Linked DNA regions of Homo sapiens. The protein of the gene in region 4 interacts with the protein of the main gene of each other region in a biochemical or structural test. Each region holds a gene or a part of one and is shown on either strand. Other genes may lie near its edges. The genes, in order: TRIM25, MARCHF5, RNF7 and UBE2D2.

The links.
Region 1: the proteins of UBE2D2 (region 4) and TRIM25 form a complex in vitro, tested with the Homo sapiens proteins (5 studies listed by BioGRID).
Region 2: the proteins of UBE2D2 (region 4) and MARCHF5 form a complex in vitro, tested with the Homo sapiens proteins (7 studies listed by BioGRID).
Region 3: the proteins of UBE2D2 (region 4) and RNF7 form a complex in vitro, tested with the Homo sapiens proteins (5 studies listed by BioGRID).

What each region holds. Positions count from the first base shown.
Region 1 is NC_000017.11:56,904,011-56,911,410, forward strand, and holds part of TRIM25 (E3 ubiquitin/ISG15 ligase TRIM25), read right to left. Parts: intron 4,554-7,400; coding exon 4,458-4,553; intron 479-4,457; coding exon 245-478; intron 1-244.
Region 2 is NC_000010.11:92,286,662-92,294,326, reverse strand, and holds the start of MARCHF5 (E3 ubiquitin-protein ligase MARCHF5), read right to left. Parts: upstream 3,161-7,665; 5' UTR 2,833-3,160; coding exon 2,798-2,832; intron 1-2,797. UniProt on the Homo sapiens protein: Mitochondrial E3 ubiquitin-protein ligase that plays a crucial role in the control of mitochondrial morphology by acting as a positive regulator of mitochondrial fission and as an important regulator of immune response.
Region 3 is NC_000003.12:141,733,269-141,741,400, reverse strand, and holds the start of RNF7 (RING-box protein 2), read right to left. Parts: upstream 3,104-8,132; 5' UTR 3,060-3,103; coding exon 2,885-3,059; intron 1-2,884. UniProt on the Homo sapiens protein: Catalytic component of multiple cullin-5-RING E3 ubiquitin-protein ligase complexes (ECS complexes), which mediate the ubiquitination and subsequent proteasomal degradation of target proteins.
Region 4 is NC_000005.10:139,557,265-139,564,644, reverse strand, and holds the start of UBE2D2 (ubiquitin-conjugating enzyme E2 D2), read right to left. Parts: upstream 3,307-7,380; 5' UTR 2,854-3,306; coding exon 2,830-2,853; intron 2,402-2,829; exon of another isoform or gene 2,238-2,401; intron 1-2,237.

The DNA.
Region 1 (7,400 bases), on a different chromosome or scaffold from region 4:
ACCCATAAAGCCATGTCCAGATTCCTGAGCCAGAGAAACTCTGAGAGAATAAATATGTGTTTTTTGAAGCCCCTACATTTGTGGTAAGTTGTTGCCCAGCTCAGAAAACTAATACAGCGTGTGTCTCAGGGATGCTTCCAGTGACCTCTTCCAGTCTCCCGCTCCTTGAGGGCCCTATCATCAACAGCATGACATCAGGCAAAAAAAAAAAAAAAACATTCAACAATGCCTTGTGGCGACCTACCTCCAGAAACTCGAACTCATCCCTCTTGGTCAGGCTCTGTTCAATCTCCTCCTTCAAGGTCTGGATCTCACTCTTCTTCTTGAGGAGAATCTGATAAATGGTGTCAAACTTGCTGTTGACCCTCTTCTCCTCTTCCTTTATCTTCCTTGTCGAGGTGGTCTCTGAGGCGTCCAAGAGAGCCTTCATTTCCGTGTATTCTTGTTGTAGCTGCTCCACCTTTCTGTTTGCAGTCATCTGAGAGGGCCAAGGTAAGAGGATGCCCGTCAAAGGGGCAAAAGTGCTAAGGCTGCAGCCCCAAGCATGGGTGAGATGTGGAGTTCCAGGAACTCTTACCTGTACTTTGTGGGAGAACAAACCACTGTGGGGAGCAACTTGGCAATATCTAATAAATTTGGAGGTGCTCATAGGCTATGACTCGGCAACTCCAGTCCTAGGAATATGTGCTACAAAAAATTGCAGCCACCTGCCCCTGAGACATGCATAAGAATGTTCACAGGCAGCATTGTCTGAAGTAGCAAAAACCTGGAATCAACCTGAACATCCATCAGAAGAAGACTTGAAGCAAAGACTGGGAGCTATTCATAGGATGGAATATTAAACAGTTATGAAAATTAATAAACTGGAGCTATGCCTGGATAAATCTCCATGAGAGAAAAACAACTTGCAGAAGAAGATCCACCATATGATGCTCTTTCAATAAAGCTTAGAAACAAACAGAATGGCTATATGCACAAAGAAACGCATGGGAATGAATAAATAAATTCAGGAGAGTGGTTACTTCTGGAAGAGAGGAAGAGGGATAGAATAAGGGAGAAACAGATGGGAGGGGCTGCATCGATGATATTTTATTTCTTAAGCTAAAGGTGGTTCATGGGCAATTTTTAAAAATAAAAGTCAGCAAGAGATCAAGACCATTCTGGCCAACATGGTGAAACCCCATCTCTACTAAAAATACAAAAATTAGCTGGTTGTGGCAGCGCGCACCTGTAGTCCCAGCTACTCAGGAGGCTGAGGGAGGAGAATCGCTTGAACCCAGGAGGCAGAGGTTACAGTGAGCCGAGATCGTGCCACTGCACTCCAGCCTGGGAGACACAGCGAGACGCTATCTCAAAAAAATAAAATAAAATAAAACAAAACAAAAAGTCAGGATGCAGCTCTGGAAAATTTCTAGAGAATATCATGCTCTAGGATTGTACTTTCCAATAACATAGCCACTTGCTACATGTGGCTACTGAGCACTTGAAATGTGGTTAGTCCAAACTGAGACTTGCCATGAGTGTAAAATACATACTGGCTTTCAAGGGTTTCACACCAAAAAAAGGAATGTAAAATATCTTAAAACTTTTAAATTGATGATATGTTGAAAGAATAATATTTAAGATATACCAAATTAAATAAACTATAATATTAAAATTAATCTCAGTCAAGTGCAGTGATTCATGCTCATAATCCCAGCACCTTGGGAGACCGAGGCAGGAGGATCGCTTGAGGCCAGGAGTTCAAGACCAGCCTGGGCAACATAGACAGACTGTTTCTCTACAAAAATAAAAATAAAAAAATTAGATGGACTGTATTCCTGGAGAGTGGGGGTGGTGAAGGGGAGTAGGCTCAGTCAGGAAGATTACTTGAGCCCAGGAGTTCAAAGCTGCAGTGAGCTATGATTGTTCCACTGCACTCCAGCCTGGGTGATAGAGTGAGACCTGTCCTAAAAAAGATAGATAAATAAAATACAATAAATCTCATGTACTATTCAAATTAACTTAAAATGACATCTGCACTCCTACTGTATTTCTGCTGGACAGCACTGCTTTAGTAGCTGCAATTTTGTTTCACATCTTGGGTAGCCTCAATAGCTGCTATGGTTTGAATGTCTCCTCCAAAGCTCATGCTGAGATTTAATTGCCACTGAGGTGATTAGATCACGAGGGCTCTGCCCTCATGAATGGATTCATATTCTTATCACAGGGTTTGACCTCCTTCTTCCTGTCCCGCTCTCCTGCCTTCCATCCTTCCGCTATGGATGATCCTCACCAGATGCTGGAAGCATGCTCTTGGACCTCTCAGGCTCCAGAACTTTGAGCCAAATAAACTTCTCTTCTTTGCAAATACCCAGTCTGTGGTATTCCGTTATAGCAGCAGAAAACAGACTAAGACAATAGCTCAGAATCAAACATAACAAAGAGAAAAACACACAAGAAGGACAGTAGACTGGAAAAGAGGAATTCAAGTATTTCTTCGCCAATATTTTTTTTTTTTGAGATGAAGTTTCACTCTTGTCACCCAGGCTGAAGTGCAATGACATGACCTCGGCTCACTGCAACCTCTGCCTCCCGGGTTCAAGTAATTATCCTACCTCAGCCTCCTGAGTAGCTGGAACTATAGGCATGCACCACCACGCCCGGCTAATTTTTTGTATTTTTAGTAGAGATGGGGTTTCGCCATGTTGGCCAGGCTGGTCTTGAACTGCTGACCTCAGGTGATCCATGCGTCTCGGCCTCCCAAAGTGCTGGGATTACAGGCGTGAGCCATTGCGCCCAGCCTTCTTTGCCAATCTTTCACTGTGCAACTTCTAATGTGACTACAAGTGTCCCCCAGTGTTCATTTTCCCTTTTTTCCTTTTGGTAAGAGAACATCCCTGGAGTTTCATCTGGGCGTGTGGCTACTCAGACTACATTTCCCAGCCTCCCCTGCAGCTAGACTAGGCGATGTGACAAAACTCCTTCCAGTGACCCATGCCCAGGAGTGATATGTGCAACACTGTGTCACTTGTGTAAAGGAAAATTGCTTGTTGTCCTCCACCTCCTTTTTGTCCCTTTGTCACAGGCTAGAACAAAGATGTAATGGTAACCCAGCTTCAACCAAAGAGGCTGGGACAATACCTTGTGGAATAGTAGGGTAATAAGAAGGGAGAACCCTTAATCCCTGAATGATCACATGAACCCTTAGTCTGGGTTACTCATGTGTGGGTTTGGACTGTCAGTTGGTAAAATAAACTTCAATCATATTTAAGCCTCTGAATTCTGGTGTATCTTTGTTACAGCAGTATAGCCTGCCCTCTAACAAATACAGGTACTTTCACGTGCATTCTTTCATTTGTCTCACAGTCATCTTCAGAAAGAACTTGTGATTCCATTGTGCAAATTGGGAAACGAAGGTTCAAAGATCTGTCAACATGACCAAAGCAACATAAACTAGTATGTGACAGAGCTGGTATTCTAACCTAGATCTCATCTAATGAAACCATAACTGCTGCAATAAAACTGGTGCTGCAGCTCTGAAAAAGGGTAAAAATCTGATCTTTCCATTTAAAAGCAATTTAAACGTATCGAAAATCTGAAAAACAGGGGGAACAAAACCATTCCTAATTTACCACTCCAACACTTCCACTATGATCCTTCTATAATATTCCCTTTCAGTTTCTTTCCATGCTCTCTGTAATGGGTTGAATGCTGGGCCCCCAAAAGACATGTCCATATACCAGAACCTGTGACTGTAATCTTACTTAGGAAAGAGGTCTTTGCAGATGCAATTAAAGATCTTGAGATTCGATCATCATAGATTACCTAGGTGCTCCCTAAATCCAATGACAAGGGTTCTTATTGGAGATGGAAGACACTAAGGGAAGAAGAGACAGGTATGTGAAGACAGAGGCAGAGATCAGAGTGATGCAGTCAAAAGCCAAGGAATGCCTGAGCCACCAGAAACTGTAAGAAGCAAAGAAGGGTTCTCCCCTAGAGACTTCGGGAGTGTGGCCACGCCAACATCTTGATTTTGGACTTCTGGCCTCCAGAACTCTGCCAGAATACATTTCTGTTGTTGTAAGCCACCAAGTTTCTGGCAATTTGTCACAGTAGCCCTATGAAACTAATATACTTCCTTTTTGTAAATAGATGCAACCCTATGAGCTATATACTTTTGCTTCCTCTTTTTCTCCCACTTTATATCATAACCATTTTTCTGAATTACTACTTTTTAATCCTAATTTATAATGATTTCCCCCACAGTTGGGCTTATAGGTAATTTTTGGTTTGGGTTTGCAAAGGATCTCTCTCAGACACACAGCTGTCTGCATGCTTTGCAAGGTTGATGTTTCATCCTGACACTGTGAGTGCACCCAACACCAGCCTTGTCATGGTCAGAGCCACGCCCATCCCGCGTGGAAGCTGAGCGAAGCCACAGGGCAGGGCTGGCCTTGGAGAGCCCTGCCACTCACCCGCACATCCTGCTGCCTGTTTCTCACATCATCCAGTGCTCTCGACGCCCCGTTGATCTGACTGTACATGACAGTTAGTTTGTGCCTCAGGGTGGCCTGCAGGGAAAACAAATGAGGTTGAGAATGCACCTCTTCAGCCCAGCCCCACCAGAAGCCATCCCTGGAACTATCCCACAGGATAGATTCCTTCCTCTTCCACTCCACCCAAGTCTTGCCACCCCAAGTCCTGTCACCCGAGTCTTGCCTGCTTGGAGCTTTTTGAAGCATTCTAATACTTACTACTTCCCTTCATCCTTTTCAGAGGACAGTACAGACCAGGGTTCCAGTCCCAACTCCCAGCTGTGCAACTGTGTCCTTCACCTCAGTTTTCTTGGACACAAAATAGATACAACTGTCCCCAGCTCACAGGGCTATTGGGAGGATTAATTGAAACAATGTAAGTACTCAGCCCAATGCCTGGATCTTAGGAAAAACATACTAAATGCCAGCTTATATTATTATGAGTTTTTCTCTAATTACCCATTTTACAGCCAATGAAACTCAAGCAAGGAGGACAGAAAGGTGGCCAAGCTCACACAGGAACAGAACGAGCTGGGACAGCTGCTTCGGTAATGGCAGGTGGGGCCACTCAGACCAATCCTCCCACTGCAAACAGCCAGGAAAGCAGTCCAAATAATGGGGCAGCGGGGAGATCTGCTAAAAGATGCTGGAGAGCCAATCAAGCAGAGGATTAAGAAGTCAAGGTCCAGGAGAAGGGGGAAGGGGGCCCAGAGAGATAAGCCTGATATCTAGGATGTTCTCTCCAGAGGCATCTGCCAATCCCAGAACAAGGCTGGGAGCCTTTGTCAGCCTCACAGGGCAGGGAGACAGAAATCAGAGTCCAAGGCTCACTGCAGACTGGGACCACCAAGGGCTGGGAATAAGATGAATCAGCCAGCCAGGCGCAGTGGCTCATGCCTGTAATCCTAGCACTTTAGGAGGCCCAGGCAGGTGGATCATTTGCTCTCAGGAGTTCGAGACCAGCTTGGGCAACATGGCAAAACCCTGTCTCTACTAAAAATACAAAAATTAGCCAGGTGTGGTGGTGCACACCTGTAGTCCCAGCTACTTAGGGGGCTGAGGCAGGAGGATCGCTTGATTCCGGGAGGTTGAGCCTGCAGTGAGCTGAGATGGCATCACTGCACTCCAGCCTGGGTGACAAAGTGAGACCCTGTCTCAAAAAAAAAAAAAAAAAGATGAAGTAGCTCACAGGGGCTGAAGCCCAGGTGCAAATCTGCTCAGTCCTAGCCACCTCCAGAAACAAAGGCAAACTGTATATGAAGGAAGCTAATATCCTCATCTGATTTCAATTAATTTTCATAATCAATATCTGAGTCTCCTACCTCCCTGCTCAGATGAATACTGCACAGAAATGGGAAGGAAAATCACCACCACCATAACAGCAGCAGCCAGTATTTATTATGCACTTACTGTATGCCAGGCACTGTTCTAGTGCTTTACCTGTATTAACTTACTTAAAGCTAAGAACAACACTATGAGGTAGGAATTACCCAGCCTTTACAGACAAGGACACTGAGGCACAGAACAATTAAGTGACTTGCCCCAGCTACACTACTAGTAACTGGCACAGCTAAGATCCCGATATTAAAATCATAGACACATGCCCAAACTGAGCATGCTGGAGATTTCTAGAAAAAAAAAATTTCCTTCCCGTAACTAGCAGGCTCAACATACTCTGGCTCTCTCTTCCACTTCCCAGACTCTTCAACTCCACCCAAGATATTCTGGGCGGAACCTGATCTTGAATCTAGATTTGAACAACCCAGTGACAGTCACATGTAGGGGTTGGAGGCAGGGACCAAGGCCACACTAACTCAATCCGAAAAGCCCAAGCTGCTCATGATGTTTCAAACTTGACCTCTGTGACACTGCCCTTCGACCTGGCCTCTAACAGTGGCCAAGATAAGGTGTGGGCCAAAGACCAGGCCTACATACATCCGGCCTTGCTGGCCTCAGAGCAAGAAGAGACCTCAGAACACCCCAAGGCTGCCAACTGCTTCACTTTCAAGAGCTGCTCATAGCACTACACCCTGAGCCCTATATTTTGAAAGATTTGATACACCATTAATCAAACACATGCGGCAGTACCCTCATCATGAATGGTGCCCACACGACTCCAGACCAAAGGAAAGTGACCCAAAAACTTTGGTAGCAGCAATAATCCCCTAATCAAAGGCAAAGGACTTTTTGAAATCCTGAGGATCCCTTCACAGACTAGAGACTTGGGTCTTCCACATGGGAGGCACCAGAGTCTCAAGTCCGACCCCACCAGTGGCCAAGGCAACCCAGCCCCCGAGGCTAAGGGCATTGCCCAGCTGAGACTGGCTCTGCCAACAGTGATGAGCAGCAGTAGCAGGGCTCAAAAAGCAGACCTGTTATAGGACTCAGCAAGTCAGGACAGGGGGGTAGGTGTTGGCAGAGGAAGGCCTGTTGTTAGGATTAAACAGCAGAGTTTAGGCCAGGCTCCTGGCTCACGCCTGTAATCCCAGCACTTCAGGAGGCTGAAGTGGGAGGATCCCTTGAGGTTGGGAGTTCAAGACCAGCCTGGACAACATAGTGAGATCCCGTCTCTACAAAAAATGTTTTAAAATATTAGCTGGGTGTGGTGGTGCGTGCTTGTAGTCCTAGCTACTCAGGAGGCTGAGGCAGGAGGATCACCTGAGTCCAGGGTTTAAGGTTATAGTGAGCTATGATCATGCTACTGTAGTCCAGCCTGGGTGACTGAGTGAAAACCTGTCTCTAAAAGAAAAGATTAAAAAATATATATATATGGGCCGGGCGTGGTGGCTCACGCTTGTAATCCCAGCACTTTGGGAGGCCGAGGCGGGTGGATCACAAGGGCAGGAATTCGAGACCAGCCTGGCCAACATGGTGAAACTCAGT
Region 2 (7,665 bases), on a different chromosome or scaffold from region 4:
GCCCTGTGAAGTAGGGTTCTCATTTTATAAATGATAATATACATAGTGTCAGAATCTAAGTTCAAAGTCACATAGCTAGTAAGTGGCAAAATTCGAATTTCATACTTTCTATCTCTGAGCCCAAGCTTTACTCACTATACCCTACTATCTCTTATCATGAAAGATATCACTGACTTAGGACTTAGGGCAGTAGGTTTCTGCCATATCTAAAACATTTAAAAAGCTTTAAAATATAGATGCCCAGGCTCTACCCTACAGAAATTTTTGATCTTATTGGTCTTACAGTCCAGCATCCATGCATATTCTGAAATGCTCCCCAGGTAATTCTAACATGGAAGTAGGTTGCCAACTACTAATCTAGACAATAACGGTCTTTGAAAGTCATGTTAAAAATCTACCTTAAGGTATGTCAAAAGAGTACAAAGATGAGAGTAGTACAAAGATGAGAGTAAGCCAGTGTCATAGTCACCTACTTCAGTAAATGGCAGCCAGAATCTTCGCATTTCTGTTAATAAGTTTTAAATGCCTCACTAGCTTTTTTTTTTGAGATGGAGTTCCACTCTGTCACTCAGGCTGGAGTACAATGGTGCGATCTCAGCTCACTGCAACCTCCGTCTCCCAGGTTCAAGCAATTCTCATGCCTCAGCCTCCCGAGAGTTGGAACTACAGGCCCACGCCACTACGCCTGCCTAATTTTTGTATTTTTTTTTTTTTTTTTAGTAGAGACAGGGTTTCACCATGTTGGCTAGGCTGGTCTCAAAGGCCTGAGCTCTAGTGATCTGCCTGCCTTGGCCTCCCAAAGTGCTGGGATTACAAGGGTGAGCCACCGTGCCCAGGCTCACTCTTTGGCTTCTTACTTTTATGGAAATATCCAAAGAGCATATGAAAAGTTAGGTCAGCTTTTGGACATAAGAACTTTTCTAGGCTGGGCACGATGGCTCATGCCTGACAATCCAGCACTTTGGGAGGCTAGGCGGGAGGATCACTTGAGCCCAGGAGTTTGAGACCAGCACAGGCAACATGGCAAAACTCTGGCTCTATAAAAATACAAAAAATTAGCTGGGCATGGTGGTATGTGTTGTGGTCCCAGCTACTAGGGAGGCTGAGGTAGGAGGATCACCTGAGCCTGGGAGGCGGGGGTTGCAGTGAGTTGAGATCATGCCAATGCCACTGCCACTGCCACTGCATTCCAGTCTGGGCAACAGAGACCCTGTCTCAAAAAAAGAAGAAAAAAAGTCACTATGTAAAAATGAAAAGCAGGAGGCCCTCAAAGGAAAAAAATTAACTACAAAATACCCCACATCAGAACAGGGTCTCAACAGAATAGAACTGGCAGTGGCAGGTGGTTTCCTCTGGGCATATTTTAATTTGCCACAATTTGCCAATTTACAATGAAAGGAAAACCTGGTAAATTATCAGACCCCCTAGACAACTGGGGAAACTGACAAATAAGTTTGTGCATTAGTTCATACAACAAATACTTACTGATTACCTACTGAGTACCAGGCTCTGTTCTGGGATTCAAGATAAACAATAGTAAGTTTCTGCTTCCAAGAGCTTATAAACCACACACATATCACACACATATATATATAAAGCAGTCAATACAATTGTCAGGATGTTGACCTGAAACAAGGGCTGGATGAATCACCAGTTATCTCAACTGAAAAAAATCAGTGACATAATTCCTATTAACTGAGATGGCTCAAAATTCTAAGCTCCAAAAAAATGTCTGTCACTCTGGAAGGATGTGTACCCTTGGGTCATTTGTGTTCTGGGTGTGGCAGGCCCAAAAGCATTTAACTGGGTATAAACTCAATTAAGGGAGGGCCTTCATTTAACACCTTACAGTTGGAATTTTACTGAGTACAAAGAGTTGGTACCACCTGCTGAAATGGGTGGCAAGTGGTGTCTATTGAGAATTGTAAGCAACCACAAACATCATGAATTAGCTTGTACAACTTGCTATGCCAGGAAGTAAGACTTGGCTCGGGGGAAATGTGGATCTAGAGTCTCCAAAAACTCATGGTAGGACCCACGGACCAGAATTTCAACAGCAGAGGGCGGTGCACCCGACTTCACAAAGAGTTTTACCGACTGGGGCCCCCCAAGAATGGGCAACTGGACTCCTGTACGAGCTGAAACGTCTTCAATGAACTCAACGATCGTCAAGTACACTAAATGTTCAGCGTTGGACTCATTTGGCTGTTTTCCATAACCTCTACTCTGGTCTGACCGTTAAATCTCCCTTGCGGATACTCTGACCTTACAGTTCGGAGGTGGGGACGGGATGGGGCGGGGGGGACGGGGGGTGCGGGTTCAGGGAAAGTGGGAGAATGAAATCAGCCTATCAGGCTTTCCAAAAGAATGCTTATCATTGGTTCTCAGACAGAGACTTAAAATTATAAGGGGGTCATTCCCCTGAAAGATAACCCGGTTCTTGCCAGTGACATCGCTGACAAACACTTCACAAGTTGGGGAGGGGGAAGGGGGAGGGGAAGAGGGTAAGGAAAACTAATTTTGTGGATTAACAGGAGTCCCTCTCAGGTCAAAACGGGGTTCCAAGGAAACCAGACGCCACTCCTTAGCTAAGTTTCACCCAAAGTCTACGACCCAGGCCGCTCGCTCTGTCCTCCCCCAGGTCTAGACTCCAAACTTTTTGCCCCTCTCACGGCCCCCTGGCCGTGGAACTCCTCCCGGCACGCCGGGTTCTGCTCACCAAGAGCCTCGAGGGCGGGCGCGGGCAGGGCCAGAGCGAGGGTCGGCGGCTCCCGGTCCCCCCCACAGCTGCCCGTACCTGTCCAGCATCTGCTGTAGGGCTTGGTCCGGCATCTTCCGCGGAGCCGGCGCACACGGCCTTCCCCAGTGGACCCGCTCAAGGCCAGGCCCAGGGACAATAGCACTGAGAGGCGGCGGAGTAGGCCGCAGTCCGGCGGCAGCCGCGAACCCGTCACCCAGCTTCCCGGGGCAGCTCCGCTAGCCTGGCGGCGGCGGTGCAGGGCCTGCGGGAGTCCGGCGGAGGCGGCGGAGAGCGAGGAGGAGGAGCCTGAGGCGGGGAGGCGGCGATCGCGGCCCGGGTTCCCGTCCGTCGGCCCGAGGTTCCGGTCCATGGACCGCGGGCGCCGAGTTGCTGCCGGCGGAGGAGCTACCTTTGTGAGGTAAGAGTCGCCGCCTCCGTGCGCGCCAGGGTTACGACGCAGGGCGGCCCAGAGCAGCCTGGGAGATGTAGTCTTCGGACCGTCTCCACTAGAGGCTGCACAGCCCGCCCGGACCAACGCCTCCGCGCCTGCCGCCGTCTGGCCGGCGCCCTCCCGTTTCCTTCCTCCAGGGGGAAAAAATGTCTTTCGGGCCGCTTTCCAGGAAGCAGCAGGATGCGCCGCTCCACTGTCGGTAGCAACAAGGTCAGCCCTCCCTGCCTGTTTGTTTTTGCCTCCGCTCTTGCCCTCAGGTGGGACCGAGCCAGGTGAGGGGAGGGGGCTGAAGGGCCATTTCTTATCAGGGTCCCCGGCCCCGGCCGTGGCGTCGGGGCGGTCAGTGGCGGCAGTGGGGGTGGCAGAAACTCCTTCCGAAGCCCCCGGCGCTGGAGCCAGCCTCTCCTGCGGCAGAGCCCATTTTGGGGGAATTACACCACCTCCGCGAGGGGTCGGTTGGTTTGGTGCGTGAGGTTCTTCTTGAGGGGGCGGGCAAATAGGGACTGCCTGGACCAGACAGCTTCCACCCGAGTCTCTCTGTGTGTTTGGGGCTGGGGAGTTGGGGGAAGGAAAGATGATTCTCTCCCTCTCCAGGAACCTTCTCAAATGTGCCTGGGCTTTCCAGGGCTCGCCGACAGTCTCCAAATGGAACACGTTGGTGAATAAACAGCTCTTGCTTACTCAGCTGTGGGTTGTCAGGGATGTTTGTTTCTCTCTCTGCTGCTGGTCACTGTTAACCGTTTCTAGTCGCGTTGACACCTTCAAGCAGGTGGATTGGGAGTGGCGGGGGTGGGGAATCAAAAAGGAGAAATCATCAGTCACTCCTTGGGTCAGCTTCTGACGTTCGAGGGATAGCTTTGGCGGGAGGAAAGAGCTGTCGGCTCAAACGAATGCGTTTTTTGGACGACCTGTGGCGTTTTCTCTAGGGCTGTGATTGGTAGGACGCTGGTAGTTTTCCCTTGATTATGTCTAATATCTGCTACAAGGTGTTTGATTTTTTAAAAAATGAAAATGTGTTTTTAAAGCTCTTTTTATATGTAGAATTTTACAATCAACTTTTCATTATCTGTTCAAAATTTGCGAAGTATATTTGAACTAGAGTGTTCATTGCTGGGAAAAAACAACAAACCCAAAAAATGTGACCAGAAGCTTACTTGGCCTCCAATTTTTGAAATATGTTTTTGAGAAACAGCACCCACCCCCCCCCACCACACACATACACACACACTCCTCCTAGGGAAAGAAAATGAGTATTTAGTTTAATCGGGGTGTCTAATATTTTATATATATTTGTATTATATATAATATATATGTATTATATAATATATAATACATTTATAATATATAATACATATATACATTTATAATATATAATACATATATATATATATATATATATATATTTTTTTTTTTTTTTGGTAGAGACGCGGTCTCGCCATGTTGCCCAGGCTGGTCTTGCAACTCCTGGGCTCAAGCGAGCCACCCGCATTGGTCTCCCAAAGTGTTGGGATTACAGATGTGAGTCACCGCATGTGACCAGTGTCTAATATTTTATTTAATTAATTCATTTATTTAATTAATTCATTGATTTTGAGAGATGGAGTCTTGCTCTGTTGCCCAGGCTGGAGTGCAGTGGCGCTGTCTTGACTCACTGCAAGCTCCACTTCCTGACTTCAAGTGATCCTTCTAGCCTCAGCTTCCCAAGTAGCTGGGACTACAGGTGTGTGCCACCACACCCAGCTAATTTTTGTGTTTTTTAGTAGAGATGGGGTTTCACTATATGTTGACCAGGCTGGTCTCGAACTTCTGACCTCAGGCGATCAGCCCGTCTCGGCCTCCCAAAGTGCTGGGATTACAGGGGCGAGCCACCGCGCCTGGTCTATTTTATTTTTTTGAGACGGAGTCTCGCTGTGTTGCTCAGGATGGAGTGCAGTGGCACTATCTTGGCTCACTGCAGTCTCCTCCTCCGGGTTCAGGTGATTATCGTGCCTCAGCCTCCGGAGTAGCTGGGATTACAGGCTCGCACCACCATGCCTGGCTAACTTTTGTATTTTTGGCAGAGGCAGGGTCTCACCATGTTGACCAGGCTGATCTTGAACTGATCTCAGGTGATCTGCCTGCCTCGGCCTCCCATAGGGCTGGGATCATAGATGTGAGCCACCGTGCACAGCCCGGTGTCTTAACATTTTAAATTATTATTTTTTGCTCCTTGTGCTGTGTCAGTCTAACCTTATTGTGTACTTATTTCTTAAGCAGTTGTCAGCCATGGGAGTTGGATATATACTTCCTGCTTAAAAACAGAATTTTATCCCAGCATATGGATTAAGTACACTAGTACAAACTCCAAGATTCTAAGATCTTAACCAATGTTAGAATGTCTGTTTCAACTGAAATTGGAAAATATGATACCTTTTGTTGATAGCAAAGACTTGTGCACCTTGACCTTATTATACCAACAAATGGATTTTATGTTTGCATTTTTATGAAAAATCAGCTTTCTGGCTGTGTCAAAAACCTTTTAAAGTAGAAAAAAATCCTGTTACTGGTCTAAAGAGTGATTAGCATGTGACCCAGTAATTCCACTTCTAGGTATTTTCAAGAGAAATGAAAACATGTCTACACAAAATCTTGTTTGTGAATGTTCATAGCAGCATTATTCTGGGTTTTTTTTTTTTTTTTTTGAGACAGAGTCTCGCTTTGTCATCCAGGCTGGAGTGCAGTGGCGCCAGCTCACTGCATCCTCAGCCTCAGGGGCTCAAGCACTCCCCCTGCCTCAGCCCCCCAAGTAGCTAGGACTACAGGGGCGCACCACCATGTCTGGCTTAAAAAAATTTTTTTTGTAGAGATGGTGTTTTGCCATGTTGCCCAGGCTGGTTTCGAACTCATGAGCACAAATGATCCTCCCACCTCGGCCTCCCAAAATGCTAGGATTACAGGCATGAGCCACAGCACCTGGCCTACAGCATTATTCTTGATAGCCAAAAAGTGGAAACCCAAATATCCACCAGTTGATGAATGGATAAACCACATGTGGTGTATCATACAATAGAATATTATTAGGAGAAAACAAGGAATAAAGTTATGATACATGCTATAACATGAAAGAACCTTGAAAACATTATACCAAGTGAGAGGAGCCAGTCACAAAGACCACATATTGTATGATTCTGTTTGCATGAAAAGTCAAGAATAGGCAACTCCATAGAGACGGAAAGTAGACTAGTGATTGCATAGGGCTGAAGGAGTTGGGGAGAAATGGGGAGTGACTGCTAATGAGTATGAGGTTCCTTATTAGAGGGATGAAAGTATTCTAGAATTAGATAATGGTTCTGGTTATATAATTTTGTGAATTATATCACAAATAAGATAAAATTAGATTATGGTAATAGTGGCAAAACTGTAAATATACTCAAAAACCCATTGTACACTTAAAAGGGGTGAATTTTAATGTTACATAAATTACATCTCAATAAAGCTTTTAAAAGAGTAATTAGCTCCACAGAAAATGTTCATAAGGGTATCTGAAAAGAAGCATATAAACAGATAACTGATAATTCTTTATTATCAACTTTGTTTCTTATTAGTATGGGCAAAAATAGTGATTGATAAAACTCAGAAAATAAATTAATCCTAACATTTGAAATGGGTGACACATATTGTGTGAATTTCAATATTGTTTGTCAGCTTTGTTTTTTGTGGTCTTACATTTTCCAATAAGACTCAGAATAATTGGAATTACAATATATTCTCTGATTTTGAAGGAAAAAAGTCTAGATTATTAAGACCTTAATCTGACCAAAACCACATTGAAATGCACTCCTGCATTTATATGTAGGGTTGAAAATCTATGATAGTGGCGCATACCTGTAGTCCCAGCTACTCAGGAGGCTGAGATAGGAGAATCGCTTGAACCTGGGAGGCGGAGGTTGCAATGAGCTGAGATCGCACCACTGCACTCCAGCCTGGCAACAGAGTGAGACTCCGTCTCAAAAAAAAAAAAAAGTCTATGATAAATGATATTCAGCCAAGAGAGTAACCAGCATGACTATAGACAAAAACAACTTTTTCCTCAGAGATATATTTTGAAATAGAAATTAACCTACAGAAAATATTTAAAGATTCTCCCAAGTTCAGAGGACAAGAACAAAGCTTGATGATGTAGAGTTCTAAAGAGTTGGGATTATAGGCGCACACCACTATTTTAATAATTCTGTAATGGATTTAGAGATAACTGAGTATGAGCTGCTCTAAATATGTCAGAAAATTTAAAATAATATACCACTCTAATGTTCTTCCATCATACTTGTTTTGAACTGTCTACCATAAAGGGGCCTGGAGTATTCGTTACAGAAATGGTATAATATTTTTAGGTGCCTTCTAAGGAGAACTGTCAATTGCCAAATTTGGTGATAAACTGCAGGCTGAGTCCTCATTCCAAGCTACAGAAAGTTTTTTTTTCATTAATTCCTTCAGC
Region 3 (8,132 bases), on a different chromosome or scaffold from region 4:
AAACAACCACTGCCTCCTGAGGTTTTCTTCAATCCCACAATTACTATCTCCTCTGTGCAAGGAGTTATGCACTGGGGACACCAAAATGACCAAGGCTGGGTCTCAAGGGGCTCAGGAGCAAATGGGGACGTAGACAAACACCTAAATATCATGAGGGTTGTGATATAACAGTGAAGACATCCTACCTGAATCTGGCGCTAGTTCTGTGCAATCACAGAATTTTAATATTAAGGTTGGTGATCCCAACTGCCTCTTTACAAATTAGGAAAATAAGGCTCCAAAAAGTTATGTGAAATATCCAAGGTGATACAGTCATGAAGGGTTACTCTGGCTATTATAACTGGCTGTACTAGCAAACCTATTCCCCTTTTCATCAGCACTTGCTCACTGTGTAATCATCACTCCTTTCTGAATGAAGGGAGGAGAGTGGAAACGAAGAGAGTGTTATCCATATCAGAATGGGCTGACAGGCAAGTCTTGGGAGCAGAAAGTATAATAAATCACAAGTGTGTGAGACAAATTCCAAATACTAAGGAAAGGGAACTAAGTGGGTTCTTGTTGCTGAATTTAGGAATCTCTAAATTACACTTATAGCTCTGATGTAGATTATCAAAACTGACCCAAATCTACACAAATTCCTAAAGTTTCAGATAAAAGATAAAAAATTGCTTTAATGATCTTCCTAGAATCTAAAACAGCACATTTCTAAGGAGTACAATAACACCTTTTAGAATGATGCTAGGGTAAGGACTAGGAAGTCTGGAAAAAAAATTTCCTTCTGCTGTCACCTGACCTCTAAGTGGGTTTTAACACCTCATAAACAAAATACAAAGGTCTAGCCTAGAATAATTTCCTGAACCCAAAGTACAGCTGTTGTAAATATGCAAGACTGATCCTGTAGTAGCAGAATACTTGCTATAATTAGAAAGTTTATGATGAAATGTGTCATTTATAGTCTATACTTTGACCTACATTAAAATCTCTCAGTAAAGTTTATTTGTTGCAAAGTTTCAATCATTATTTCAGGTTATACATTTCCACTTACTCTTTAAATGTTTTTCCTTTGGGGAGGAAATAGCTTTTTGGGAGACAAATCTTTTGAAAATACCCTTTGGGAACATTATTTTTAAACTGGAAAGGAACTAAGTGAAAGCTTAGTTTCCTTTAAACTAAAGGAAATTTATTTAGGAGATAAAATGTTTAGCGAAACTTGTCTTAAAAAAAAAAAAAAAGAGTCTCCTGGATCAGTTAAAAATGCTTCCCAAACTAGAAATTATGATTCCTAAGTGGGGGTAGGGGCAGCTGTATTGCTGGCAAATAAACTAGATACTTTTAAAGCCTCATATGTTTTGTTTGTTTGTTGCTGAGACAGGGTCTCATTCTGTCACCCAAGCTGGAGTATAGTGGCAGTGGCAGTGGCAGGAACAAGGCTCACTGTAGCCTCGACCTCCTGGGCTCAAGGGATCCTCCCACCTCAGCCTCCAGAGTAGCTGGAGGCCACCATGCCTGGTCAGCTTTTTATTTTAATTTTTAATTGTACAGACAGGGTCCTGCGATGTTGCCTAGGCTGGTCTCAAACTCCTGGGCTCAAGTGATCCATGTAAAATAAGTGGGTCATGTCTAATATCAAGGTCTTTCAAAAGAGAAAGATAAAAATATCTGAATCCAATTGTTGTAAATCCTCTTTGAAACAAGCCCTTAGGAATAAAAGACAAAAGAGCATAAACTGCGAAATCTCTTGATTCTGGTATGTTTACAGTCTCACCCCCCTTAAGGTGAGCAATTCTCTGTATGTTCTCCAATTCTCTCATTTTTCAAGACAAGTCACAGTTTTCAAACGATAGAAATGTCCGTTTTCTTTAACTACCCTCAATAAAGAATTCCACTGAAGAGGGTCTCATAGTAATTTTAAATGCCCTATCTGAAAATACAACTTGCATTTAAATAGCACCTGCTTTTCAAAGTGGTCTGAGTTCTTAGAACCATATAAAATATAACAAGATTAAGCTGTTCTGAAAAGTTTCACTTGGTCTAATATTTTAACTCAAAATATCACAGAAAGAAGACATATTTGTAAGAGGGTTCTCCACAAAGGCATGACTCAGAGCAGCACAGTATCTTCTCCAGGAAATGGCATCCAATATGGAGAGGGGGGTGTGATGGAGGTGAAGTTTTACGTTTCTGAAAAAAGGGCTTACAATTCTTCAGCTTCCATGAAACTTAGATATTCTTGAACCACACTGTTCCCTTCAAGCCACGCTAGTGCTATCTGACCCGTCTTAAATCAATCCAGATTTAAAAGCCATTCGAAGAGCGGCGGTAAGCTAATCCGGAAATGCAATGGCTATGAACACTTTCCTGCGTCCCTCGAGGAGAACTAAGGGTGTCGTTTTGTGGAAGATGACTCTGGAGCATCACTTTGGTGGTGACCAAGACTATTAAAGTTCACTGCTGAATCACGGCCTTTACCCTGACCACCTTGTGTTGAGCTTTTAGAGGTGGGGCTGGGGCTGGACACACAAACCGAAGTGTTTCCTGCTAGTTCCCAACAATCACCCGGTTTTACTTTCTTGGTCACACCCATCACTACCTGAAATTACCTTGTTTAACTCCGTTTATTGCCCGTCTCTCTCCCTAGAACACCAACCACCCGGCGCAGGGCGCCTGTTGCACAACCCCGCAGCCCCAGGCGGCGGCCGCAGCCCTCAGGAGCCGCAGCAGGAGCGTGGCTCCGCGTTCCTCCGGCGCCGGGGCAGGGCGACCTCCACCCACTCTCCCAGGCAGGGCACTTTCCGAGGCTTCTGACGGACGCCCGTCCCTTCCCAACCCCGAGGTCGGCTCCCGGAGGCCGCAGGGCGGCCCTGGACTCGCGTGCAGCGCTTACCCATCACCTGGACCCTGCAGATGGCGCACGTATCGCACTCCACGTCCCAGCTCCACATGGCCACCGCGTTCCACTTCTTGAGGGAGAACATCTTGTCGCCTCCCGACTTGGAGCCTGAGCTCCCGGAGTGAGAGGCCAGGGCGCAGGTTTCCTCTCCGTCTTCCACGTCGGCCATGGCGGCGCCGCGGAGCCGACGGCGGAGACGTTGGCTTGGGGAAGGCGGAAGGCTAGGGCGGCTCTGTGGAGCCGCCCGACGGGCCACAGCGCCGCCCGCAGGCCGCCAGCCACCGTGGTGCCTAGACCCCGGCTGCCCACGATTGGCTGGCGCGGCACAGTGACGTCACCTGACGCCAGCGCCAGGGGGGCGGGCAGGCCCCGCCCTCGCCGTCCTAGGCCAACTGAGAGGGCTCGGGCCCTTATGGGGCGACGCCGCTGAATCTGCCTGCTGCGCTGCGGGGTGTTACGTCTGAGCAGGCGCACAGATTGTGCAGGGATATGTGTCCTGCTTTACGGCTTCATTAAACCTACTGCTCTCAGAAATTATCTTGTTAATTTATTCGTTTGTCTCTTCCCTCCCAAATGTAAAACTCTATCAGAGCAGGAAACATGTTGCTATCACCACATTATCCTCCGTATCTGCAAAATGCCTGGCCACAGGAGGCACAATTATTTGTTGAGTGAATAAATGATCTTAAAGATCTAGAAATCTGGTTCAGTGATTCTCAAAACTTTTTGGTCCCAGGACTCCTTTTCACTTAAAAATTATTAGGACCTTAAAGAACTTTTATTTATGTAGGAAATGTGTAAATATATATATATATACACACACACATATTATGTATGAATATATATACACATATACAATGAATATATGTATATTCATATATACATACATTTCCTGTATATGTATACACACATATGTAGAGATTAATGTTTGCTTTTGAAGAAATTAAAACATTTTAAAATGTATTCATTAAAAATCACAGTAGTAACCTCATTACAGGTTATCATTAGAGGGATGACTTCACATACCATGTAGTTGCTAGAAACTCCGGTGTACACTCGTAGAATGAGAGTGAAAAGAGAGAAATAGCTCTAAATATTGTTAGGCAACTAGTTTGCCCTCTTTTGACCGCTAAAAGAGGTCGGGATCCCAGGAGTCCCGGTGTGTGGCGACACAACCCACACTTATTTTTCAGGCCCCGCTCCCTCAGCTGCACAGTCTCCATTCCTTCTGCTCAGTACATTTGAGCTAGTTTAACTTCCTCTTTTTATATGTAGGACTAATGAGGTCTGAAGAAGTGAAATGACAAAGATCACATCGTTATTATAGTAGTGCTTCTACGGCTAGCCCACCATCACATGTGTTTCCAAGAAAGCCGGTATCTCCATTGAAAAGAAAACAGAAGCACAGCCAGCCTAAGGAGATGCCTGACCCCACCATCACCTAGTGGTGGACAGCTACTCTGTCAAGTTTGGATTCTGAGCCTCTCCCCATCCCCTCATTTCCTGATACCTGGGCAAAAGCTAACCAGACTAATGGAGCCTGGCAGGGGAAACAAGAATGCATTAATATACAGAAACATAAATATGGACACAGGGTCACATTTGGTTAGATGCAAATGCGTATTTGTTGAGTGGTGTGTTAAGGGCTGTGAGGGTACAGGATGCAGTGAGGGAAAGCCTCATGAGAGAGGTAGAGGATGCAGTGAGGGAAAGCCTCATGAGAGAGTAGAGGATGCAGTGAGGGAAAGCCTCATGAGAGAGGTAGAGGATGCAGTGAGGGAAAGCCTCATGAGAGAGGTGAAGTTTGAACTGGGGGAACATGGGAGGTCTTCAGGGCCAGTGGAGAGAGCAAACCTCTCTGAGCTGTTGGCCAGAGCAGGGCACAATGGTGGCAGCAGACAGGAATTGGACCACACCTACTTTATAAGCCAGACACCCATTGGAGTGAGCACACAAAACATGTGTTCTCTTCTTACTGAACGACCACACATCTGCCTAGAGATGGCTGTAAATGCTAGGTATCTAACAAAGAAGGAAGGCTGGCACCAGAGGAGGATAAAACGCACCCAGTTGGTGAGAAGTTTGAAAGTCAAAAGGATGAAATGGTGAAAAGGAAAAGAATGGTTTCGCTGGAGGAATGGTATGTGCCCTTGCTGAGGCATGAAATCTGGAGAGAGGTGTCTGCTGCAATGAAATTTAAAATAGAAGCCAGGAGGGAGCATAGGGGCGGGAAGTGGGAAGGCAGGTGGAGGAGATGAGTACAGTTTTGACACACTGCATGTCAGGAGAACTTTTTCTCCTGACAAAAAGAACAGGAATGAGTGATGCGCCAGAGTTCAGTGCAACAAGCAAGCATGCATGGGGAGAAAGGAAAGCAGGAGTGAGGCAGAAAGTTCAGGCTGCAGCAGCTGTTCAGGCGTGGTGGGGCCAACGGGTCCCCTGTGATTACCTTCCTTTGGTTCACCTTCATGAGGGCTTGTCTGCCATCATGAGCACCCAAAGGGCAGGAACTATAGGTGGCCTTGAATGCAGCAAAACAAATATCTGTCCTTCTCATGGCCTGCTCAGTTCCCACTCCACCACTGTGCATTGTTCCTCTCACCAGTCCTTGGTGTGTGGTGACACAACCCACACTTATTTTTCAGGCCTGGCTTCCTCAGCTGCACAGTCTCCTTTCCTTCTGCTCAGTACATTGAAGACGTAGTTTCTTTCATTTTGAGGACTTCTCTTAAGCAAAATATTTGAGGACTAACTAATAAATATTTAGGAAAAACTTGTCTCAGTACAAGTGGACATTTTTGTTATTTCTTTGGTCCTCACTCCAACCATCATTTCCCCCTTCTATGCCATTCATCTTTAACAAAATAAGTTTTCCTGTTGCCAGGGAGGTAAAACTTTCACTCTACCCTCTTAGGTTCAGTATTCGGGGGATTGCAAATTAAACCAACAAAACACAGCTTAGCAGGAGAAAAGATAGATTTTTATTCACTGAAGCAGTCAGAGTTCACAGAAAATTATGACTCAAGGAGCAATTAGAATTTGGGGCTTATATACTGTCTAAATAAAGGAAAGGGAGAAGGAGAAAGGGCACTTCTGGGAAAAAACTTTCAGAAAAGATAAACAGGCCTTTGGGAGAATAGATGGGAGATATGATAGTTTTGTGACAAAGTCTATTAGGTGATTTATTATCCCAGTACCAACTTCCTGTTTCTAAAGATAGGGTCAATCTTCCCTGGTTTTGAAATTGCTGGGAAGGAATTTAAGACAGTTGAATTCTTTTGAGAGGCAAGTAAGTTCAGGGAAAAAATTAAAATAAAATAAAACAACTCTTCCTGCATCCACTGATTCTCAAATGCCTTTAGCTCAAAATAATCCTTATGCTATAGTGGCATATTCTGGACTTCTTTCCTGTACTAGGGAAAGAAATAAAAACAAAAACAAACCTGATGACATTTGCTTGTTGAGCTGGAGTAGTTTCCCCAAAAGGACCAATGTTTGGAACCATAATGACAAAGCAAGAAAATTGTTCCTAGAGGCTAGAGATCAAAGCTAGCCCGAAATGTATAAGCTGCCTCCTCCTGGGAATGTCCTTCTAAGCAAGTCTGCTCTCCATCACACTTGTCAGACAAGAGTTATGGCTCATCTTTTTTCTTGGAAATAATTGTGTTTATGTCCATAGGTCCCTGAGCATTTTCTGGTCTTCTTTGGTCACATGGAACCCTCCAGTTCATTTGCCTCTCTTGGTCTTAGGTGAAGGTGCTATGGCCGGAAATCATTAGTCCTGCCACCCCACTCCCCCAACACACACACACACACACACACACCCCATACTGAAAGCGTACATGTGACCAAGGCAATCAGCCTTTGTTGGAGAATTCCTTAAATCCTCCCAACATTATATTTCATTAATTGTAGACATCAATCATCAATTGTGTGACGTAAATCAATTTCGGATGTAAAAAAAGAAGTGATGTAGAATATTTCAGAATAGATGAAAAATGAAATAGAAAAACCCATGCCTAAATCTCATGATGCCTTCTTTAGAAACCTGGTGACTTTCCTGAGAAAGTAGAGTTTTGGGGATTGATTTTAATCCATTTGTCTAAAATTGCTCCACATTGAATCTTCTTGAGCTGCAGGTGCGGATGAGTATAGCACTGTGTGTATGCTTTTGTCTCTTTTTTGAAATTTGCTGAGTTTTTTCTATTAGATATTGGTGACATCGGCTTGAATGGCTCATTGTTGCTTCAAACTTGACAGGTGAAAGGGAGTTCATTTCCTTTCTTGCAAAATTTAGCTTTCTTTCAACAATTCCCTTTCTCTGCCTGAGATGTAATTCTCTCGTAGGTATAACTGTCCTGGTCTGAAACCACGGTCACTGTTGACTCTTTCCCTTCCTCGCCCTTCATACGTAATTATCTGTTCATTCTTTCTTTAGAAATTTCTAGAATCAACCAAACTTTCCATTTCCTATTGTGGAGCTTAACCTCATCACCCTGCTTCTGGATTACAGTGTATTGACTTCTTCCCTGCCTTTCCTCCCCAGTCTAACTGCCATTCAATCTAACATGCCTGGTTAATTTTCCTACCTCCTGACACTCTCCTGCTCAAAATGTTCCAAAGCTCCACATTATCATCAGAACAAAATCTAAATGTCCTGATTGTTCATTTAAGTCCCACCACAATATGGCCCCAACCTACCTGTCAAGGCCATCCCCGGCACCCCTCTGCAGGATCCTCGTGAGACTGGTCTGCACAGTCATCCAAGTGTACCATGGATGGTCTTTTCCTCACATGTTAACATCTCTGAAATTGGATAGAACTTCCCCTACCTTCTTCAGCTGGATTGCCCTCTGTGCTTAGAAAAAATGTACTCATCTTTCTGTTCTCACTGGCCACTCTTTGCCACCACATATTCATGTCCTCCCAGGAAATCACAGCATTTACTGTGCTTCTTCTACACTTTTGGCACCAGGTCACACAGCAAGCAAAGGGCGCTGTTACAGATGTTTAACAAGCTCATCATAATTTATTGAACAATTTTAAGTTTTTAAAAATTGACAGCTCACAAATGATAAAAACAGTGAAACAGGAATACAATAAAAACCCAAGTACCATTAATAGACTCTCCAGAAATTCCTGTATATGCACAAGCAGACACACAATGCATCAATTTAAAATTTTTTTAAATTGTGGTAAAATTTGCGTAACACTTACCATCTTAACCATTTTAAGTGTACAG
Region 4 (7,380 bases):
CGTCTCTACTAAAAATACAAAAATTAGCTGGGCATGGCGGCGGAGTGCCTGTAATCCCAGCTACTCCGGAGGCTGAGGCAGGAGAATCGCTTGAACCCAGGAAGCGGAAGTTGCAGTGAGCCAGGATAGCACCACTGCACTCCAGCCTGGGCGACAGAGGGAGACTCCGTCTCCAAAAAAAAAAAAGTTCAGGCCGGGCACGGTAGCTCACGCCTATAATCCCAACACTTTGGGAGGCTGAGGCAGGTGGATCACCGGAGGTCAGGAACTAGAAATCAGCCTGGCCAACATGGTGAAACCCCGTTTCTACTAAAAACACAAAAATTAGACAGGTGTGGTGGTGCGTGCCTGTAATCCCAGCTACTCGGGAGGCTGAAGCAGAAAAATCACTTGAACCCAGGAGGTGGAGGTTGCGGTGAGCTGAGATCGTGCCATTGCATTCCAGCCTGGGCGACAAGACTGAAACTCTATCCCCCAAAAAAGTTCAAATTATTTCTAAACTTGATTTTATTAAAAAAATCTTACAAAGGCATATTTTAAGGAAAATCTATTCTAGAAAATATGTAGCAACTCATAAGAAACTATATTACCAGAGCAAGTATTATTAATTAAAACGTATGTTTTGTGTCAAAGAGATAGTTCCCTCTCTGAAAAAGTCCGTTACACATATAATTCAATGTAGAGATTAAAGTCTACATTTCTTTTTTTTTTGAAAGGGAGTCTCGCCTGTGGCCCAGGCTGGAGTGCAGTGGCGCGATCTCGGCTCACTGCAAGCTCCGCCTCCCCGGTTCACGTCATTCTCCTGCCTCAGCCTCCAGAGTAGCTGGGACTACAGGAACCCGCCACCAAGCCCGGCTAGTTTTTTTTGTATATTTTAGCAGAGACGGGGTTTCACCGTGTTAGCCAGGATGGCCTCGATCTCCTGATCTCGTGATCCACCCACCTCAGCCTCCCAAAGTGCTGGGATTACAGGCGTGAGCCACCGCGCCCGGCAGGTCTACATTTCTTTATCTGTAAATTATTACACATTATACCCACTTGCTCTTTCTCAGGTTATAAAATAAGAGGACAAGCTTCTACAGGTATTTGATAACTTCCCAGTTAGATTCTATAAGGACCTAGCAATTCCTAAAAGCCTTTAAAATACATATGTATATATTTTTTTTGGATGACTACTCCTCAGTGTGCTCCCCTGCCCCTTAAACGGTTCTTTAAGACATCTTTGCTTAAGGTTCAAGCTTCTTTATGGTATTTAACAAATACCATTTCATTTTAGTACAAGATTTATTGTCTAAAATCTGCCCTTCTTCATTTGTTAGAAATCAGAGTCAAAAGAAGTTAAGGAGCTAACCTAATTATAGTAACCAATGGGACTGATTCCACACTGTCTTTGAGCAAAAATGAAATGAGGACCAACCGCTGAGCTGAGGTGTTTAAATCATCAATCTGTATTCTGACTTAGTTTAAGACAAGCTAAAAACTGGTTCTCTTCCTCTTGCATCCCCATCCCATCATTCAGAATGGATAACCCCAGTACCTACTTCTAAGTAGCTACAGGTATAGGCCGTGTGCAGTGGCTGATTGATGCCTGTAATTCCAACACTTAAGGGAGGCAGAGACAGGAGGCTAGCTTGAGCCCAGGAGTTCCACACCAGCCTGGACAACACGGCAAGACCCCGTTCTCCACTAAAAGGAAAAAGATGTATTGAAGAAAAAAGTAGCTACCGGTTTAATATAGCCAATCTGAGTAGCCAAGTGAAACACCAAACAGAAATTAATAGTGGTGCCTCCCTACTTCTAAGAAAAAAAACATGAAAGTGGCACTAAGAGGTTACAACATCAGAAAGGGAAAAAAAATAAATTTTAAGCCAATCTTATAGTCTAGATGTATTATTAGGAAAACCTCCTTATTGATAACTAAATAACCCTTCACTTTAAAGAGCAAAGAAATCCTTTTTAATACAAAATCTAGTAAAACCCCTTCCCAGTTAAGAGTCTCGGTAAACATATCACCTAATAGCGTCAAGTCCATTTTGCGAAGAGGCTGTGAAAGGAACTTTTGTATAATTTCTCTGGTGGTTTTCAATGTTCAGGTTTCTACCTCTACCTTTGCCAATGTACAGCTTTTCTATTAGATCCAATCCTGCAAAACGGAAGTGTTAGTTTCTAACTACATACAGCAACCTCAAGGAATAAAATGATTCTCCCTCTACTTCCCTCCTCCCTCATTAAGTCACCTTTTTTTTTTCTTCTGAACTTCCAACTCTTAACAGTTTCTGGACAAGCAGGGTGGACCGATGTGTGCTGCCACCCAAGAGGTAAGTGAACTCAGGATATACTTGTGGATCGGGCAAAACGGCTTCCTCTGTCAGCCCGAGCTCAGGCGGTTTTGTGGAGGGAGCTAGGGCAGGTGTGGGAGGAGGGAACAGAAATGGGGCGAGAAGCCCTTTCGACCTCTGTCGAAGGGGCCGCCCAACGCCCCAGCGCCCCCCTCGGCCCCAACCCCGCCATCCTGGCCCGACAATGGCCCTCAAGTGCAGCGGCAGTCCCAGACTGGAGAGAAGCCCTAAGAGTCCACACCATGCGGGCCTGGAAGGGCAGCCGGGGAGGAACGCTGAGGCCGCGAGAGCACCTCCGGCCTAAGCGCGGGCTGCGCGCCGGGGCCTCCACGGGCGCCATCACTGGGAGTGGGGTATGGAGGCCGCCCCGAGGGGCCAGCACCGGCAGCAAGATCCAAGGAGGCCGCGAGCCCGACGGAGACTACGGCGGGAAGTGCAGGCCGCAGCCTGCTCAGCTGGCCAGCAGCGCAGCCGACCTCCGGCCGCTTACCTTGTGGATTCTCTTCAGAGCCATGGTGGGAGGCGGGTGGCGGCGGCCCCCGGGGCGGGGACGGGGGCGGGGAAGGGACGGGGAAGGGGCTAGGGAGCCTGAGGCCGCCTCGGCGATCTCGGTCGGCAGGAGAAGATGGAGAGTTGAGGAAAGCGGGTCCGGCGGGACGGGCTGAGGGCCGGGGCCCACTCAGCTCCTGGGCCTGCCGCAGCGGTCACCGCATCACCCGGCGGCGGCCCCTTTATTCGCCGCCGCCCTAGCCGCCACCGCCGCCGCCGCCGTAGCTGCCTCTTCCTCCCAGGATCAGCGCCGCCTCCTAAACCGCCGCAGATCCCTCCGCCAGAAAGCAAAAGCCCAAGCCTCGGGCTCGGCCGGCCTCTCTTGGTCGGACAGCCGGAGGGATTGCCTGTCTTCCTCCCTGCTGCAGGTGGACCGAGGGACGCGCGGGCGGGCGGGCTGCGCCGCCGGGGTGGGGCCGTCGGAGCACGGGGTGGGCCCGACCGAGGGGCAGGTCGGGAGGCGCGGGGATTGGCGGGCCAGGGGAGGGAGGGCCGAGCCGCGCCGGCGGCGGAGGGATACGGGCCGCCCCTGTGAGTAAGCTACGCACCGCCGTCGCCGCCACGGCCCCGGAGGGCGTGACGCTGCGAAGCCCTGGGCGGAGATCTCGCGAGATCTAGAGCGCGAGTTCTGCAGGCTCCAGCGCCGCGACCGTTGACTTCATTGCTGATGGAAACCCACGCGCGTGTCACAAAAGATCAATAAATATTAAAAGGCGAATGTTGTCCAGATCTCACGACCGTCCCCGTACTAGTCCCGGGAGGAGGCACTTAGGCCCACTGCAGCGCTCCTGAAGGAGGAAGGGACTTGGCCAAGGTCACAGAGCTCTTCTGAAGTCCTGGGACTTAGCACATCTCTTTCCAGAGGCCGCGTGGCTACAGCTCGGGCACCTGCCACGAGGGAGATGTCTCATAGCCGCTCGGGTTGCAGTGAGATTGGCCTTCCGGACCAAGGCCCCAGATGGAGAGGATTTGAATGTTGTGTTCTCAGCCACTGGCATGTATGTGTGCCTTCGAGGTGTCCAGACTCTGCTCAGCTTAGTGAATTGCAAATTGTTACAAGCAAGCACTGTACCAGCTGCGTCAGAAAAAAAATCACAGTGTGTGCCCCAAATAGTTAAAACCAACGGCTGGGCGCGGTGACTCACCCCTGTAATCTCAGCACTTTGGGAGGCTGAGGCTGGCGCATCACCTGAGGTCAAGAGTTCGAGACCAGCCTGGCCAACATGGTGAAACCCCATCTCTACTAAAAATACAAAAATTAGGCCGGGCACGGTCACTCACGCCTGTAATCCCAGCACTTTGGGAGGCCAAGGCAGGCGGATCACGAGGTCAGGAATTCGAGACCAGCCTGGCCAACACAGTGAAACCCCTTCTGTACTAAATATACAAAAATTACCCGGGCATGGTGGCAGGCGCCTGTAGTCCCAGCTACTCGGGAGGCTGAGGCAGGAGAATCGCTTGAATCCGGGAGGCGGAGGTTGCCGTGAGCCGAGATCACGCCAGTTCACTCCAGCCTAGGCAACAGCAAGAATGCGTCTCAAAAAAAAAAAAAAAAAATAGCCGAGAGTGGTGGCAGGTTCCTGTAAACCCAGCTACTGGGGAGGCTGAGGCAGGAGAATCGCTGGAACCCAGGAGGCAGAGGTTGCAGTGAGCCGAGAGCACGCCATTGCACTCCAGCCTGGGCGACGAGCAAAACTCCATCTCCAAAAAAAAAAAAAAAACCAACCTCGTGCTCCAGATACCCATCAGGAGGGTCCGCTGAAAATCAAACCTAGAATATTTGGAATTGTTTTTTAGGAGATGGAGACAAAAAGCTAAATCACTGAGCACCTACCCTGTGCCCAGCCCTACACCATGACTGGTGTGAGATACGGAGCCAAGCCAGGGCTAGAGGCCTTACACAGGAGAATAGTAAAGAATATTTTGCTGGGAGGTAATGCCCACATTCTGAAATCTACCCCTGGCGTTTTCTGATTCTAAATGTCTCCTTTTCGCTACATCCAGAAAGGACCTTGCAGATCATTGATTCTAGCTCCTGAATTTATAGAGAAGAAAAAACTGGAGCCCAACTAAGGGAAGGATCTTGCCAAAAGCCACACAGTAGGTGAGTGGCAAAGCTCATACTGCCTCACCTACTGAGAAGGTTGGACCATTAGGACAGAAGCACCGTGCACCCAGTGAGAGAAAATTGTATCCAGTGGTTCAGGGTGGGTATAGTTGAGGTTGAGGGTAAAATGGAACATCTCACAGCCCCAGATATTTTCTTCCTAAGAAATGTGATGGGAGGGGTACAAAAATCTCCACTGGACAGATTTCTTTTTTTTTTTTTTTGAGACGGAGTCTCACTCTGTCGCCCAGGCTGGAGTGCGGTGACGCTATCTCGGCTCACTGCAAGCTCTTCTCCCGGGTTCAGGCCATTCTCCCGCCTCAGCCTCCCGAGTAGCTGGGACTACAGGCACCTGCAAGCACGCCCGGGTAATTTTTTTGTATTTTTAGTAGAAACGGGATTTCACCTTGTTATCCAGGATGGTCTCAATCTCCTGACCTCGTGATCCGCCCGCCTCGGCCTCCCAAAGTGCTGGGATTACAGGCGTGAGCCACCGCGCCCGGCCGACAGATTTTTTTTTTAAAGTTATTCTCAGTAATAACTTTTGTATTAGAAAAGCTCCTGGACACGCCTGTAATCTCAGTAATTTGGGAAGCTGAGGCGGGAAGATCACTTGAACTCAGGAGTTCCAGACCAGCCTGGGCAATATAGAGACTTCATCTCTACAGAAGATTGTAAAAATTAGCCAGGTATGGTAGCACGCACCTGTGGTCCCAGCTACTTGGGAGGCTGAGGTGGGGAGGATAGCTTGAGCCTGGGTGGTCAAAACTGCAGTGAGCCGTGGTGGTTCCACTGCACCTCAGGTGTGGTGAAAGAGCAAGATCCTCTCTTAAAAAAAAAGCAATATGTATTTGTTGTAAGACATACCTATAAGTAAAGGAAGGAAATAAAAGTCACCCACACTCTCATCATCCAATAATTAACCACTTTTGACATTTGGTTAATGTCCTTCTAGTCTTTTTTTCCCTTACATATAAATATCAATACATATTTTTCTTTGAAAAATGTGGGGTCATTGCATAATACTGTTTGGTAATCTACCTTGAAAATAAACAATATATTGGCTGGGCGCGGTGGCTCACGCCTGTAATCCCAACACTTTGGGAGGCCGAGGCGGGCGGATCACGAGGTCAGGAGATCAAGACCATCCAGGCTAACACGGTGAAACCCCGTCTCTACCAAAAATACAAAAAATTAGCCGGGCTTGGTTGGCGGGCGCCTGTAGTCCCAGCTACTCAGGAGGCTGAGGCAGGAGAATGGCGTGAACCCGGGAAGCAGAGCTTGCAGTGAGCTGAGATCGCGCCACTGCACTCCAGTCTGGGCAACAGAGCAAGACTCTGTCTCAAAAAACAAATAAGAAAATAAACAATATATCGTGAATTTTCCTGTTTCAAATATTTCTACCTTATTTTAATGGCTTTGTATTCTAGCATATAAATGTACCATATTTATTTAACTGGTCACATTTTGGGGAACATTTGTTTCCCATTTTTACTATTAAAATAATGCTGTGGTAAATATCCTAGCTATCCTATAGTTCATCTTTTTTCTTTTTTTTTCTTGAGATGGGGTCACTGTCTCTCCCTCAGGCTGGAGTGCAGTGGTACACGTCAGCCTCCAACTCCTGGCTCAAGTGATCTTCCCACTTCAGCCCGCTGAGTAGCTGGAACTATAAGCTGGAGCCACCATGCCTGGCTAATTTTTATTTATTTTTTGTAGAAACAGGATCTTTTTTTAAAAAAAATCATATGACTCTTCTTGATAAACAGACTCTTAATCTTTATACAGCTCTAAGAGTGCCTTAGGATAAACTCCTAGAAATGAAACTGCAGCATTAACAGATATGCAGATTTTTGCATCTGTGTTCATGAGGGATATTGGTTTGTTTGTTTATTTATTTATTGAGACAGACTCTCACTCTATTGCCGAGCCTGGAGTGCAGTGGTGCGATCTCGGCTCACTGCAGTCTCCGTCTCCGGGTTCAAGTGATTCTCCTGCCTTAGCCTCCCAAGTAGCTGGGATACAGGTGTGCACCACAACGCCTGGCTAATTTTTGTATTTTTTAGTAGAGACAGGGTTTCACCATGTAGGCCAGGCTGGTCTCGAACTCCAGACCTCAGATGATCTGCCCGCCTCGGCCTCCCAAACTGCTGGGATTGCAGGTGTGAGCCATTGCGTCCAGCTGGGATATTGATTTATAATTTTCTTTTTTTGTAATATCTTCACCAAATTTTCATATCAAGGTTCAGCACTTGGGGAAGCCGAGGCTGGTGAATCACCTGAGGTCAGGAGTTCAAGACTGACCTGGCCAACATGGTGAAACATGTCTCTACTAAAAAAAAATACAAAATTAGCCAGGCGTGGTGGTGCTGCCTTTAATCCCAG